Linked DNA regions of Homo sapiens: region 1 is linked to region 2. A link means that fine-mapping ties the variant in region 2 to the expression of a gene that starts in the linked region. Tissue or cell type: sigmoid colon. Region 2 holds a variant in brackets; the other region holds the start of a gene. All regions are shown on one strand. Distances are between the middles of the regions.

Region 1 (8,105 bases), 490 kb before region 2:
GACTCATTAACAAATGGATGGCTCAACAAATTGTGTATACACATACAATGGAATATTACTCAACCGTAAAAAGGAACACGGTACAACACGTTACAACTTGAATGAATGCAAAAAACTTTGTGCTAAGTGAAAGAAGGCAGATGCAAAAGGCCACACATTGTATGATTCCTTTTATATGACATACCCAGAACAGGCAAATCCACAGAAAGAGAGAGCTGATTAGAGGTAACCAGAGAATGGGAGGAAGGGGAAATAGTGAATGATTACTAAATGGGCATGAGGTGTTCTGGGGTGATGAAAAAGTTCTGAAAATGGAAAGAGGTAATGGTTGCAAAATATTATCAATATACTAAATAACACTCAATTATATACAGTTTAAAATGTTTAGTTGTATGTTATGGTAATTTTGCCTCAATAAAAAAACAACTCTCCTTAAAATTCCTTTGGCTAAAAAAAAAAATCCAATTTGATTTTGTAAGTAAACAGAATTTCCAGGCAGGACAGAATTACAATGGGTTTCTTACTGTGAAAATCTAAAATTGTATAAGTTCATGAACAAAACCATCAGATCAAAACATTACTATATTATTTAACAACAGTATCTGACATAACTTTAACTGTTTTTTCAGGGCAGCTAAATGCAGAAAGACCGAAATATATTTGTCGGACAGTGACGGCTTTTAGGAATGTGGAAACACTAGTCTGAATTTCTCAATCTTCTGCTGTGGTTCTCCACATACGGCGCAGAACAAAAGATGGAGGTCCTCTAGCTCAAGAATTCTACAAACAGAGATTTGCTGAGCTAATGGAGTTTGACAGTATCTACTTTGTGTGTGTCAATGGACAACCATTAGAGATGAATTCTACAGAGAGGCTTGCTCAGGCTGGACAATTAGTAAGAAGACAAAGCATTTTGATAAAAAAATCTGATCAGAAGAACTGGTCTTGGCTTGAGCAATCTAAAGACCTAATCCTTAACATTGTATTATCCGATTTTATAAAGTGCTTCTTGGGGAATGCACTCAGGGAGTGATGTTCATGTTTTAGGCATATGATTTTTTATTTCTCCTGAGCTAAATGTTATGAGCAGGTTTCTATCACAGGAAAACAAGCGTGAAACCTAGAAAGTCTGACTTTTGCTTAGATTAGATCTTCCAGCACAGCAGGGAGCAAAGTTTCGTTACAATTATGATACAGTCAGAATTTGCTTTACATTCACACTTTGATGATACTTTTTCTAAACAGATTTCCAGAGTACTCATATTTGTTTAAAATTCATATTTCCAACATTTCAGAGCAATACCTCATCTACTTGATTTTGTGTCTGCTGAAGTCTTCGATTACTGCCAGTGGCAGCAGTTGGACCTGTAGACCTGGAACATGTAAAGGCATGAGCATGAGTACATTACGATTCCAAATACATTTTCTTAAGTATAAAGATGTTACTCCGGGACTCTCACTGTTAACAATCTCTTACATTAGAACTAAAACAGAAAAAGAAATTCTTCCTGAAGCAATGAACGAAAGTTTTAATTGCATTTCTTCTAATTTCTCTATAATTTCCAAGACTGTCCCACCTACTAAAGGGACAAATGTTAAGCTTTAATAGGACCTACTTTGTATCCCTGAAGTATCTGATCCCACGATAGGTAAGCTCTACTGTCCTTTTTTGAAACTTGTTCTAAGGCACACATCTGCTTGAATGTACTCAGTACTTTCCTGATCTTTTCATTGTGGAAGGAACTGTTTTCATAGTTACAAACAGTTACAGAATGCCCTTTTTCCAATATGGAAAAATAGATTAATTTACAGAAACAGAGTCAGGAACACTGGGATGCAGGGAGTGGGTGGTGTGAGTGGAAAGGTGTGTTGAAGAAATGCCTCCTCTTTTAGGAAGGTACTCTTTCTTTTTCCCCCTCTTTTGAGAGACGGAGTTTCGCTCCTGTTGCCCGGGCTGGAGTGCAATGGCGCGATCTCGGCTCACTGTAACCTCCGCTTCCTGGGTCCAAGCAATTCTCTTGCCTCAGTCTCCCAAGCAGCTGGGATTACAGGCATGTGCCACCACGCCCGGCTAATTTTGTATTTTTTAGTAGAGACGGGGTTTCACCATGTTGGTCAAGCTGGTCTCGAACTCCTGACCTCAAGTGATCCGTCCACCTCGGCCTCCCAAAGTGCTGGGATTACAGGCATGAGCCACCGCGCCCGGCCCAGGAAGGTACTCATCTTTTAAAATCTTCATCAAAGGCTTTATTTCTCCCCATGCAGATCTTTCTTAACCACTCTGACTCTGAAGTCATTATTGGCTCCATTACTTGGAAAGTATCACTTTGGTTTTTCAGGTATAAAGTCCCGCCTCCTCGAATAGATCACAGGTTCCTGGGTCTTCTTACTCTCTTCTCTGTATCCTAGATAGCACCTAGCATGTGCCTTGGTATACAACAGTCTGATGGGCTGTTTGAACAGTCACTTTACATCTGTCATGTGTCAATGACCAGGGCTACAACAGATCTCATCACCGTCCTCACGGAGTTTAGTATCTGGTAGATAAGTAAGGACCATGCCGTGGCGCTAGACTCTTTCCATGCTTTTCCTCCTTTAACCCTCATAACTCTCTGAGGGGAATATTACTCCTATTTTACAAATGAGTAAAGTGAGGTTTAGAGAGTCAACACAGCTGGCTGCAGGACAGCTTGTTTTTAGATCAGGTCCTGTGTACCTTGGCTCTAGATCTTAACCACTGTGATCTATTGGCACAGCAGCCTCAGCAGGAACATTCGAGGGGGGTCCCCAGCTCCTGGAAGAAACCCGGGGCTTCCTCCGACGGTGAGCAATGAGCAGAATGGAGGTGGAAGAGGGAGTCCTTGTGATTCTTAACCATTAGCATTCTCTGAGTCTTACCACTGGAAGCAGGGGTTTGCAACGTGCTTTCGCTTAAGAGAGCGAAGGCCCACGGTTAAGTGATCTTTCCAGTGCAGATGCCCCTAGCTAGGCAAGGAGCTCTTCGGCCCACAGGGGCTCAGGACAGGGCCGAGGTCCTTTCTTTCGCAACTTCTGGGGCCCAGCGCAGCACCGGGCCGAGAGCGGGCGCTCCCGAACCAGGGCTGTCGTCCCCATTCCTCTCAGGGACGTCGGGGACTAGAAAGGGAAGGGGCGAGGAGCGGGCTGCGGGCGGGCAGCTCACTTCCTCCGGGAAGCGTCTCGCCGCCCCGCCCTTGCCCCTTCCGCGTCCGCCCGATGGCCGCGGGACCCGCCCGGCCCGTCTGCAGCCCGCGACCCAAGGGCCACCGCCCACCCCCAGGCCTCGGGATCCCCGCGCAGCCCCGGCCTGCGTCCGAGTGGCGGCCGGCGGCAACTGGGCAGTATGGCGGTCCCAGCGCGAGCTGCCGCCTGCGGGGCCCGAAGCCGCCCGCGTCGCGTAGCGTCACTCACATTTTGGCAGCTGCGGCGGCGGCAGCGGCGACGAGAGAGGGTCAGCAGAGAAGCGAAGTTGGGACCGGAGGCCAGGGAGATGGGTGGGACGGCGCGGCGCGGGGCAAAGACGTCACTAGGCGGAGCCGGGGGAGTGGGCGGGGCGAAGAGGGGGCGCGCCGGAAGTGGGCGGGGGCGTCGTGGGTGGGTGCGTCCAGGGCGGGGTCAGAGCGAGACGTCCCCTCCCCGGACGAGGTCACTTGGGAACTTGAGGGCCACAGGGGTCCCAGGGCGGTCCGGGCTCTGAAACGCAGAACGCAGGTCAATACAGCTCCCTGTCCGCACCGCCGTCCGCGCTGGCGCTTGGGGACGTGGTCTGTAAACGTGGTGCATTAGCCACTGGCGAGGGACTGCGTGGATAAGTGAGGGTGGGGGCAATTCATGTTATTCTGGGCTCGGGACCATTTCTAACAGTATTAGAGACAGATGACTGGCTTCTGCTGAGTGTTCCAGAGTAACCTAGTGATCCTGAGGGCACCATGTTTCTCTAAAGTAGTTGAAATAGGAAGTCCATTTCGGGTATTTGTCACATGGTGTTGGGTGAGGTTCCCGCTCATGTTTTCATCGGTGACACAAATATTTGTCACTGCAGATCATATTATAATCTGCTTACGAGAGCCTTGGCATCAAGGCTGTAGTTCCTTTATTTCTGTATTTTCAGGCCCTAGCACAGAATAGGTCCTCAGGTTTTGGTCGAAGGGAGGGAAGCACAAATCTGAACGCAGTGAGTTACCTTGTATATATTTGTTACTGAAATATTCCTACCAACATAGTTACCTACACCAAAAAATAAAACACTAATAGGTCATTGGTGGGTCTCTTAGATGAGAAGTGAAAAATACAGTACTTAAATACTATGCTGTTTTTTCCAACTCTAAATAGAATACTTTGAAAAGGGAAACGTTAGTATATATCGAATAAACGAGTGTCACAAAGGCGGTGGGATTTGAGCTGGGTACTAGTGGAAAAGAACTTTCCAAGTAAGGGTTGGGCAAACACCATGAACAAAGACAGCAGTGAAAATGGACGCAGTGTGCACAGACCACCTAGAGGGTGCAGGTTGGGTACAAGTGAAAAGAAGACTGAATAAAGAGGATAAACAAACAAGAAAAATGTCATTTAATTGTAGTGGGCCCTGGAAACCATTGACTTACGGACGTGGGAGATCCATGATGCAAAATTTCTCTGGCAGTAGTGGCCAGATGGATTAGATGGAAGAGGGAGCACTAGGGAGATAAGGAGAGGCTCTGCAGTGAACGGGAAGGGAGCGGCGATGACACAATACTCAGAAAGGACGACGTTCGTAATCTGCTGGAAAATGCCTTTTAGAAGACTTTAGAGGATTGTAACTGAAAAGGTGAATTAAATTAATGTCTTTATCTTTCAAATAATTGCACTGCCTTACACAAATGATTGACATGTTGAGAGGTGCCTGGAAAGATAGGGGAAAAGCTCTCTGAATGGTGGCTGGAAGACATTTTTTCTTTCATGGACCTAGCTGAAACAATGTAACATTCAATGTCAAAACATTACATCTGGATCAGAAGGAAATCCTTGACATTATTACATATGTTTTGAAACATGTGCCCATCACCTTAGATTTCACTACCCGGTCATATTAAAGCAAAACACACACGTAGTATGGGGAAATTTTCTTCATTTTTAATTTACAGCAGAAAGAATATAAAGCATTCAGAAAACATTTTCCATATTTTAAGGGCAATTCAAAACATTTTGCATGGTTTCCAGCAGCTGAGTTCTTCAACAGATCCATTGATTCAATGATGCTTTACATGCACAATTACAAAAATAAAACTTACAAAAAAAGAAGACATCTAGACTAGTTTTACATGCAAGTCTCAGGGACCCCCCATTGGGCGCCAACTACTGTGTGGAACTGCCATAAGCGACCGTGCAGCCAGAGAGGGGTTCGTATTATTGTCTTTATTTCGTTCACACAGTACAGCTGATTTCGAATGGGTAACAATAGCAATTAAATCTTCAGGAGATAGAATAAGATTAGCTATTAATTTTATAATGAAATCCTACTCCTGGCACTTGGGAATTCAGATTATCCAAGAAAGCTGCGCTTACCTATCATCTTATATTCGAAATTAAGATTCATAACCAAGAAAAAGCGGTCAGAAATGCTTCGTTTCAGTGGAAGTGCATTTTTGCCTCGCCTAGGATTCACAGTTGTACTGGTAGGTTACACTGGTAGGCTTTAAACCTACTTCCTATCCCCTCCATGAGAACCCTCTTAATTCTATGGAAGTCTCTACCATCTGTCATTTTCTAACGTATTCAGCTAATAATGTAACATGTGAAACATTAAAAAAAAAATGTGAGGGTTAAAGCAAATCCACTGAGGTCATTACTCTGGTTAAAACATCAGTTATTTGTACCATAATAAATGGAATAAAGATATCTAAATTCAGTATTAATAGAGGATATTCTGAAAGAGCTGGCTTTCACGTTCTATTCCCATTTATGAATGCAGTTGTGTTTGTAAATTACTCAGTGTCCTCCTATAGGTCAAATTGTGTAAAATAATAGGTATCTGGGGGACTGCAACAGCTGCAACATAACCCACACATTTAAAAACAAAATGGAGTCAGGTCAGTTTACAAATGTACAGGTGGCTACTAGTTGTGGGGCTGTCACTGTTGTCAAAGCTGATCACAAGCAGAAAGACATATACTGTACAGTAATTCGAGGTTGGCAGTGAAAGGAAGTAATTAAAAAACAAGTACAATTATAGAAAAGGCACCAAGAGCACTGACCCCAGTTTTTACCACAATCTTTTTGTATCTACCTTCCTTCCAAAGACACCAGTTTAAAAGCTTATTTGTGAATATTTTTAGGCTTCACAACAAGCCTTGAGTTTTAACTCACAGTTGGCAGCCAGAACCAAGAAAAAACATCTCAGCTTTACACCAACTGATCCTCAGACGTAACCTGGGAATTTTAAACTGGCATCAGCAAATACGAACTTTATTCTCTCAATTTAACATTAGCAGTTTAATTGTTAAAAACATCAGATTTCTTTGGCTCCTCATTATGTGGAAATAGTAATATACCATGCCGTCTCTAAAAGACCAGTCTGCATCTTTTTCATTTTTTTTTTTGTGCAATTTTATTATATTTTCTGATTTCCAGCAGGAGATATGGAAACGTGACATTTTTCTACTTTTCATACTATTTCTTTTGTCAGGTTTTTTTTTTTTTTTTTTATCATTCTAAGTGTTCTTTGTTGGAGTGAGTGGATGGTGTTAAGCTACATACTGATTCATCTTATGATTATCTGTTTTGCAAAAGTAACTTAATTTTCTTAAGCAGTATTAGCATTCACATTACTTGGCACCATTGGCAAAAAAATTTTAAATAAAATAAACTAAACTCCTGGTAGCCAAAATTAAATGTAAACATATCCTTTTTTTTTTAAGTAATGTTACTCTGCCTTTTTTCCTAAGTCTAAATACAGTAGCTCTTTTTTTTTTTTTGCAGTTTAGTCATGCTTTAGCAAAATGTTCTCCTAAAGAACATTTAAAATAAAGTACTCTTATAGTGAAATAAAGTTTTTTTGTTTCATTTTACAGACCATAGCCACTAATGCTTTGCTTTTGTTCATTTCTTTTTTCTTGATTTCATGCACATATCTCTGTTTTAATATATACAATATATACAAACAGTACATCCACATTTTTCTCGCTCATTCAGACAAAACTATACAAATAATTTTATCTTGCCATGTTATTGACCTTTGTGAATAAAATATTTAGCAATTAATATAATCCCTTTCAAATATTTTCTCACTTTTCATTTCTACCTTCTATATATACACAGAAACTGCTCAGTTTGGATGAGATATAGCCAAAAACATGGAATTTACTGGCCAGAACGCAGCACCACACTGATCGTTTAGGTGGCAAATGTCCAGGCAAGGTTCATGATTCCTTAGAATTACTACAGCTTCCAAGGTTACTAAAAAAGGCTACATGCGTTACCAATTCTTAAGTAATTCTCATTGCACATGAAAGTAAGGCAAAAAAATTAAAGTGCTGAACATGAAAAAGGGGACAAGATGATTACTACCCTCGCAGGTTCTTGGAAGGTGGTGGGGACAAGAAAATAGTTTAAACTCTGTGAGCTGCTTCTCATTATTTCCCATGCATTACCCGTTTACCACACACCTGCCCCTCTGCAAATTTCCACAAGACATTAAAAACCTGCAGATTTCAAAAGTTGCATTAAATGTGCTGTAGAGATTAAAACAAACAAACAAACAAACAAAAATAAACAGTGAAGGAAATGAGAACACACGGACCCAATAAAGATTTTTGTATGATCTAAGCCCTCCACTGAGAATCAGTCCCAAAGATTCAGCTTCTTGGAAATAACCGGCAGGTGCAGGAACAGCATTCTTTTTTTGTTGCTAGTATAGCCCCACCTTTTCTTATCTATATTTTTGGTATAAATATTTGTACAGTTCCACACGATGTTTGAATACAGCCCTATATGAGAAGGAAATGGCTTCTTCCTGAGAAGAGGAAGCCTCTTTCAATTCCTCCTGGGTGTCTTGATTTCCCGTGATCCAACAGAAGATTGAGTTCCAAGATGTCTTGCTGATCAAATTA
Region 2 (8,105 bases):
GAAGGTGATGCAGTCAATTACAAAGCAATTACCTGAACAGTGACTGCAAACCGGTGCCACATGGCAATTATAATGCTGCCTCTCCAAGAAGGGCTTGCCCTTGGTTGCTCTTTCTGACATCCACGTGGCACCCTGGGCCCACCCTTAGCATCCTGCCACCATTACACTCAGCAGTGCACAGCCAGAGCCAAGCTGCTTCTGCAGAAACCTCTTCTTAAGGTCATAGACTTTTACTAACCCCAGGGATGTCATACTTGGGACAGGAGGGTCTTACCCTATAAGCAGGGAGCTTGGGAAGCATTCTAGCACTTCCTCAAATGAGCCAAGGGAAAGCTGACTAGATGAAATCTTCAGTGTTCCTTCCCTGGTGGGCGCAATTCAGAAAACCAGAGGGCTTCTCGCTGACTGGCGAGCCAGATGGGGCAAAGGAAATGAGTGTGAGGCCAGGTGCCTTGGTGCCTCAGTGCCCAGGTGGGCAAAGGGCACAGACACACATCAGGCTGGGAAGACTGGTTACTGGGTTTTGGTTTTTGGTTTTTGCAAAGCCAGCATCTCTGACATTTGCAAGGATAAAGGCATCCAAAGAGGGCTGAGAGGTCTGTCTGGATGCTGCAAGTTCTACCAGCAACGAGCAGGCTCCTTCCCTGGTGCAATTCACTCCCTCCCGCTCTGGACCTGGCTGGCATAGAGGCCACTCCCTCTTCCTGCTCTCCCTTCCAACCCCAGGAGAGGAGGGGACTCTGGATACTAAGGGTCTCTCTTGGCAAGTTCTTTTTTTTTGGTCTAGAGGGACCACCAGCAGTAACCTGAGGCTGTAGCTCAGGCTTCTTCTCATTCCAGGGAACAGACACAGGGAAGCCAACTCTCAAAGTCCTCCTCTTGCCTTGATTCCAGGCATTTTAGCATTCAGGCTGAAAACGTCCCAAAGCCCCACACTGTGGGCTTTGGAAGTACCAAAAACAGATGCCGAAGAGAGAGCTTGGCCCTCGGCACGGTGCCGCATGGGGTCGGAGGCCAGGAGGTTATCTCTGCAGAAACCTGACCATTTTGTTTATGGTGTTCTGACAATGCTCAGAGCCATGCAGAGCAGCTGCTCCCCGTACCGAGCTGCTTGACATTCTGCCGAGAAGGTGGCTGCGGCTCTGCAAGGATGACTTATGACATTGACAGCTTTTGGGGCTGCCGGTCCCCTGGCTTCCCTGCTCCAAGACCCGGGCCATCTGCCTCTTACTTAAGCCTGAGGCCCAGAATGTTAGCACAGGGAGAAGAAACTCACCAGAAAAGAAAAATAAGGAGAAGAGAAACAGAACTGGGACCACCTATTTTAACCAATAAGTCATCCCTCCCATGTGAATCTGCCTCCCACCCCAGTGGATGTGCCTGGCAGAAGCGTGGGCAATGTTTTTACAATAATCAGAGGATGACACTGCCCTGCTTACAAGCTTTCATGGGCCCCATCGTTCTCAGGTTACATTCCAAACACTTTCACATAGGTGCACTGCGGGGTTCAGTGCCCACCTGCTCACCAGCCCCCTCAGGCTCTGCGCTCTAAGTACCTGAACTGCCCACCCTTCATTTCCTCCAGCACACACTTCCTCAGGCCCCCAGGGCCTTTGCATATCCCTTTCCCCCACCAAATGCCTTCCCCTTCTCCTCATGGCCCTCCCCAGCCCCATTAACTGGCAACCTCAGTGAAACATCACTTCTTCAGAGCTTCTCTCTCTGATCCCCAGATTAGATCATATCCTCCTGCTCTCAGATCTTAGAGTTCCTGCACTTTTCCTCTATGGCAGTAATCACAGTTTTTTCATACAATTGGATGATTAAATTGTATCTCCTCTACCGGACTGGAAGCTACGTGAGGGCCAAGACCTTGTCAACGCAGCTCTCCACTATTCCCCTTCCTGGCCTGTGGAAGGTGCTCAATAAATATTTCTAGAGTAAATGAACCCCAGAATCAGGATGATTAGAAAACGAAGACTGACAAGTTCAAGTCAAAAACTCAGGATTGGACTTAGAGAAAGAGCTGGACCCTGGCATTTGATCCACGGATCTGTGACGAGCTAAGTGACCTTGGAAATTATTTAAACTTTCTGAGCCTCAGTTTCTCATCGATGAAACATTGCAGAGTTGTTGTAAAATTCAGATAATGCCTGAAAAGCACTTATTGTAGTAAAGGGTAGCTTCCATTTTTTTATTGTTGTAGTTAATAAATGGCAGAATGGCAAGTTGGAAAACTTACTACAGAACTCTGAGAAGACACTAGAGTGAGCTGTACAGTTCCCCTCCATGAGCTAGATGAATGCTTTACACACATCCCCATGGTGATGTGGTACAAATGACTTTTGCTGAACAAAAGGTTTCACCCATCACTAAGTCAATAACACTAGGCACCAGGTGTGGCCCCCACCCTGCGCCAAGTCCTGTGGGGTGGGGCATGTTTGTTAATCAGCAGGACTTCTCAAACATCCCTAGAGCAGTTGTAAATTAACACAGCCTTTCTGAAGGATGATGTAGCCATATGGAGCTAATTTTTAGGCAGTTATATCGTTTAACCCAGCACTACTATTTCATTTCTAGGAATATTCTCCAGAAAACAATTGTTCAGGTATGAAAAGCCTGGTACCTAGTAACTCCTCAAATAAATATTTGTTGAGGGCTTACTATAAATAAAGATACAAGGATCTTTCTCACGGTGTGATTTCTAATGGCAAATAGTAGTAATAGTCTCAATGTCTAATGTCAGTGAACAGGTTAAGTATATGATATCACACAGAGTCATTTAAAAATATGTAAATCACTTAACATGGAGTCAAGTAAAAAAATACAAAATAGCATATATGATATAACCCCTTATTTTAGTAAAAAAAAAAAGTGTGTGTATGTGTGTGTATGTGAAAAGCATTCAGAAAGATGGACATCATAGGCCATTATATCAATGTCTTCCTTGTCTTTATCTACTATCTGAAGTCTTCTACAATAAATATAAATTCATTTTCAAACCATAAAGAAGAAAAAACTGCTTTTATTCTGAGAAGGGGGAGATAGAGAGGAGATGATATATAGTCTGCCATGGAGGGCCTTCTTGGGAAACTCAGTTTATCTGTAAGTTAATTCAAAAATGAGAATGAGAATGAGAATGAGTCTCTCTCTCTTACACACACACACACACACACACACACACACACACACCATTGCTTGGAAAGATTAATTTAGTTCTCTAGTTTGGCTCCTCAGAAAGTTCAGAAACTGAACCCTGAAATCTACCTCTTTGGAATATCAACTCAGTGATACCAGTATCACATCATCTTGATTACTGTAGCTTTAGATTAAGTATTGAAATTAAGTAGGGCAATTCTTTTAACTTTACTTTGATTTTTATAAATCCTTTTAGCTATTCTTGGTCATTCTTATGCTATATGTAAATTTTAAAAATAGCTTGCCAGTTTCTACAAAAAAGTCTGATGAGATTTTGACAGGGATAGCATTGAAGCTATAGATCAACTTGGAGAGAACTGCCATCTTAACAACACTGAGTCTTCCAATCCATGAACATGGTATATCACTCCATTTATTTAAGTCTTCTTTAATTTCTGTCAGCAATGTGTTATAGTTTTAAGGGTACAGGTCTTACATATTTTGTTAATTTGATCCTAAAATATTTCAAGGAATATTTTATGTTATTTTACACTGTATTTTTCTTTATCTTTGTTTTCCAATTGTTCATTGCAAATATGTGAAAATATACTTCAAAAAAATATTGGCCTTGTTCCTTTGGCCTTCCTAAATTCATCTACTAGTTCCAGTAATTTTTATTAGATTCTTTAACACTTTCTATGCACATGATCATGTTGTCTGCAAATAAAAAGAATTTCACTCCTTTCTTTTCCATCTGTATGCCTTTTATTTCTTTTCCTGGCCTTATTCAACTTCCTAGGACCTCCGGTAGAATATTGAATAGAAGCAGTGAAAGTGGACACATTGATGATTTCCCAGTCTTAGAAGGAAGTACAAGAATATGCTATTAAATATGATCAGGTGCCTGGGCACGGTGACTCACACCTGTAATCCCAGCACTTTGGGAGGCCGAGGCAAGCGGATCACGAGGTCAGGAGATTGAGACCATCCTGGCTAACATGGTGAAATCCTTCCTCTACTAAAAATACAAAAATTAGCCAGGCATGGTGGCGGGCGCCTGTAGTCACAGCTACTCAAGAGGCTAGAGGCAGGAGAATTGCTTGAACCCAGGAGGCGGAGGTTGCAGTGAGGCGACGTCACACCATTGCACTCCAGCCTGGGTGACAGAGCAAGATTCTGTCTCAAAAAGAAAAAAAAAAAAAAAAAATATATATATATATATATATATATATGATCAGGTGTAGGCTTTCTGTAGATTTCCTTTATTGGATTGAGGAAATTCTCTCCTATATCTAGTTTGCTGAAAGGTTTTTTTTTTTAATCATGAATGGGTATGGAATTATATCTTTTTCTTCATCTGTTGAGATGATTATATGGTCAATATTCTTTGTTCTGTTAATACAATTAATTACATTGATTAGCACATGTTAAACCAACTTTGCACACCTTCAATCAACATAATTAATCGTGGTGTATTATCCTTTTTACTTATAGCTGCATTCCATTTGCTAATATCTTGTTATGGATTTTTACATCTATGTTCATGAGAGATATTGGTCTGTAGTTTTCTTGTAACGTCTTTACCTGGTTTTGGTATCAGATATCCTGGTGTCATAAAATGACCTGACAAGTGTTCTATCATCCTATATTTTCTGAAAATGTTTGGTAAGCCTAACATTATTCTTGCCTTAAATTTTTTTAAATCAAATTCACCATGAAGGAGGTTTCTTTTTGGGGAAAGATTTTAAATT[A/G]CAAACTTAATTTAATAAATATAGAGCTACTCAGATTTTCCATTTTGTGTCAGTTTTAAGAATTTTTATCTTTTAAGAAATTTGTCCATTTCATTGAAGTTGCCAAATTTATTTCCATAAAATTTTCATGATATCCTTTTCTGACACCTCTTAGGTTACCTTTAATGTGTATAGCATCTGTAGTGATGCATCCTTTTTACTCATATTAATAATTTGTATATTTCTCTGTTTCTTAATCAAGCTAGCTATAATTTTTCAACTTATTGATCTTTGAAGAGAGATAGCTTTTTGTTTTATTAATGTTTTCTATTGTTTGTCTACTTACTATTTCATTTATTTTATTCTTATTTTAATATTACCTTTTTCCTTACTTATTTTGGTTTTAATTGGTTCTTCTTTCTCTAGCTTCTACATGTAAAAGTTTAGGTCACATTTTAAACCTTTGTTAATATCAATTACATTTACTGATTTTAATGTAAATATAGTGTAAGCACTTCAAACTATAAATTTCCTTCTAATATCTGCTTTCCCTGTACTCCATACATTTTCTATGTGGGGTTTTAATTTTCATTCATTTCAAAATATTTTCTTTCTTCTTTTTTTTTTTTTTTTTGAGATGGAATCTCACTCTGTCTCCCTGCCCAGGCAGGAGTGCAGTGTTGCGATCTCGGCTCACTGCAACCTCCGCCTCCTGGGTTCGAGCAATTCTCCTGTCTCAGCCTCACAAGTAGCTGGGATTACAGGCACCCACCACCATGCCCAGCTAATCTTTGTATTCTTAGTAGAGATGGGGTTTCACCATGTTGGCCAGGCTGGTCTCGAACTCCTGACCTCAAGTGATTTGCCCGCTTTGGCCTCCCAAAGTGCTGAGATTACATCCATGAGCCACCACGCTCAGCCAATATTTTCTAGTTTCCTTTATAATATTTCTTCTTTTACCTTAAGCAGTATGTTGTGTAATTTCCACATATTTGGGAATTTTTCAGATATTTATTCTGCTATTGAATCCTAAATTAATTCAGTTACTGTCAGAGAAGCAGTAATCTTTTTAAATGTAATGAGATTTGTTTTATGACACAGTATATAGTTTATATTAATAAATGTTCTATGTGTAAGAAAAGAATGTATATTCTGCCACTGTTGGGTATTTATTTCAAAAATGTCAATTAGATCGAGTTGTTTGATAGTGTTATCCAAGTTTTCAATGTCCTTACTGATTTCCTGTCTCCTATGCATCACTGAGAAAAGAATCTCCCACTACAATTGTGAAATTTATCCATTCTTCCTTTCAATTCTGTCACTTTGGCATGTATTTTGAAGCTGTGTAATTAGGTGCATAGACAGGACGGTCATGTTTTCCTAACGGACTGACCCTCTTATCATTATAAAATATCTCTCTTTATCTTGAGTAATAGTTCTTGTCCTGAAGTCTACTCTGCTTGATCATATATTCACTTTAGTTTTCTTATGGTTAGTATTTGCACACTCTATTTTTTCCCATCTTTTTACTTCTAACCCATTTGTGCCTTTATTATTAAAGTGTTTCTTGTAGAAAGCATGTCATTGAGTATTATGGTTTTTTTGTCCAGTCTGATACTCTCTAGCTTTTAATTGGAATGCTTAAGCCATTTACAGTTGATGCAATTATGTATATGGCTGGGTTTATCTCTACCATCTAACACTGTTTTCTACTTGTCCTGTTTCATATTCCTCTTTCCTGACTTCATTAATTTGAATATTTTTGAGTCTTTCATTTTATATCCACTATTGGCTTATTCCTATATCTCTTCATTTTTAGTAGTTTGCTCTAGGATTTGCAATATATATCTTCAATCATAGTATTCTACCTTCAACAAATATTAGAGCACTTCACCAAAAATGTAAGAATCTTTCAACAATATACTTCCACTTCCCTCTGCTTTCCTTTGTATCATTGTTGTCACACACTTTGCTTCTATATAATGTTATTACTTATGTTTTAGACAATCAATTATCTTATTTTAAACATATTTTTGAGCTATAATTTATACACCATAAACGTCACTTCTTTGAAGTGTACTTCAATGCTTTTAGTATTTTACAGCCTTGTGAAACTGTCACCATAAGCTAATTTTGGAGCATTTTCATCACCCCAAAAAGAAACCTAATACTCATTAGCAGTCACCCCTCATCCCTACCTGACACACACACCTCCAGCCTTAGGCAATTATTAATCTGCTTTCTGTCTCTATAGGTTGCCCTATTCTGGGCATTTCATATAAAGGGTATCACATAATATATGGTCTTTTGTGACTGGCCTCTTTCACTTAGAATAACGTTTAGAAGTTCATCCACGTTGTGGCATGTTATCAGTGCCTCATTCCTTTTTATTGCCAAGTAATATTTCATTGTATGGATAGACTACATTTTGTTTATTAGTCGGTGGACATTTGAGTTGTTTTGACTTGTTGCTATGATTAATAATGGTATAAGTTTTTCTGTGAATATGCTTTTATTTCTCTTGGGTACATATCTATGAGTGAAATTGCTGGGTCTTCTGGTAACTCAATGTTTAACATTCTGAGGAACTGCCAGAATGTTTTCCACAGCAGCACCAGCATTTTGGATCACCATCAGCAGTGTGTGAGGGTTCCAATTTCTCCACGTGTGTGAACACTTACTATTATCTCTCTTTTTTTGTTATAGCCATCCTAGTGGGTAAGAAGTGGTATCTTGTTGTGGTTTTCACTTCTCTGATGATTAATGATGCTGTTAAATATATTTTCGTGTGTTAATTGGCTATTCATATATCTTCTTTGGGGAAATATCTATTCAAATTATGTGTCCATTTCTATTATTTTTCTTTTAATTGTTAAGTTCTAAGAATTCCTCAGAATGTTAAACATTGAAATCATTTCTCAACCTAAAGTCACTAGATTTATTCCCATGTTATCTTCTAAGACTTTTATAGTTTCAGCTCTTAACATTTAGGTCTATAATCTACTTTGAATTATTTTTTCTGTATGGTATGAGGCAGGGGTCCAATTTCTTTTCTTTTCTTTTCTTTTTTTTTTTTTTTTTTTTTTTTGCATGTGTTTATCCAGTTGCCCCAGAACCTTTCTGAAAAGACTATTCTATCATGATTAAATTGTCTTGGTCCTTTGTTGAAAATCAATTGACCATAAATGCTAAGACTTACTCCTGGACTCTCAATTTTATTCCATTGATTTATACGTC

What was found. PIP is the estimated chance that this variant, and not a neighbour inherited with it, causes the effect.
Region 1: VAMP3 starts here. The variant in region 2 is fine-mapped to the expression of VAMP3 in sigmoid colon (GTEx, PIP 0.94).

The regions. Positions count from the first base shown.
Region 1 is chr1:7,766,710-7,774,814 of GRCh38, reverse strand. VAMP3 (vesicle associated membrane protein 3) reads right to left here and starts at 3,519. Exons shown (of 5, transcript NM_004781.4): 1 at 3,430-3,519; 2 at 1,304-1,373. The coding sequence starts at 3,431. It overlaps CAMTA1 (calmodulin binding transcription activator 1), which reads right to left. Exons shown (of 23, transcript NM_015215.4): 23 at 5,109-8,105. RefSeq lists silencers at 3,156-3,385, 3,350-3,592 and enhancers at 3,826-3,875, 3,619-4,315.
Region 2 is chr1:7,272,544-7,280,648 of GRCh38, reverse strand. The region is part of intron 5 of CAMTA1 (calmodulin binding transcription activator 1); the gene reads right to left. Among named protein-coding and RNA genes, the nearest start is that of CAMTA1-IT1, 88 kb to the left of the region's middle. The variant A/G (reference allele first, on the strand shown) is at 4,890.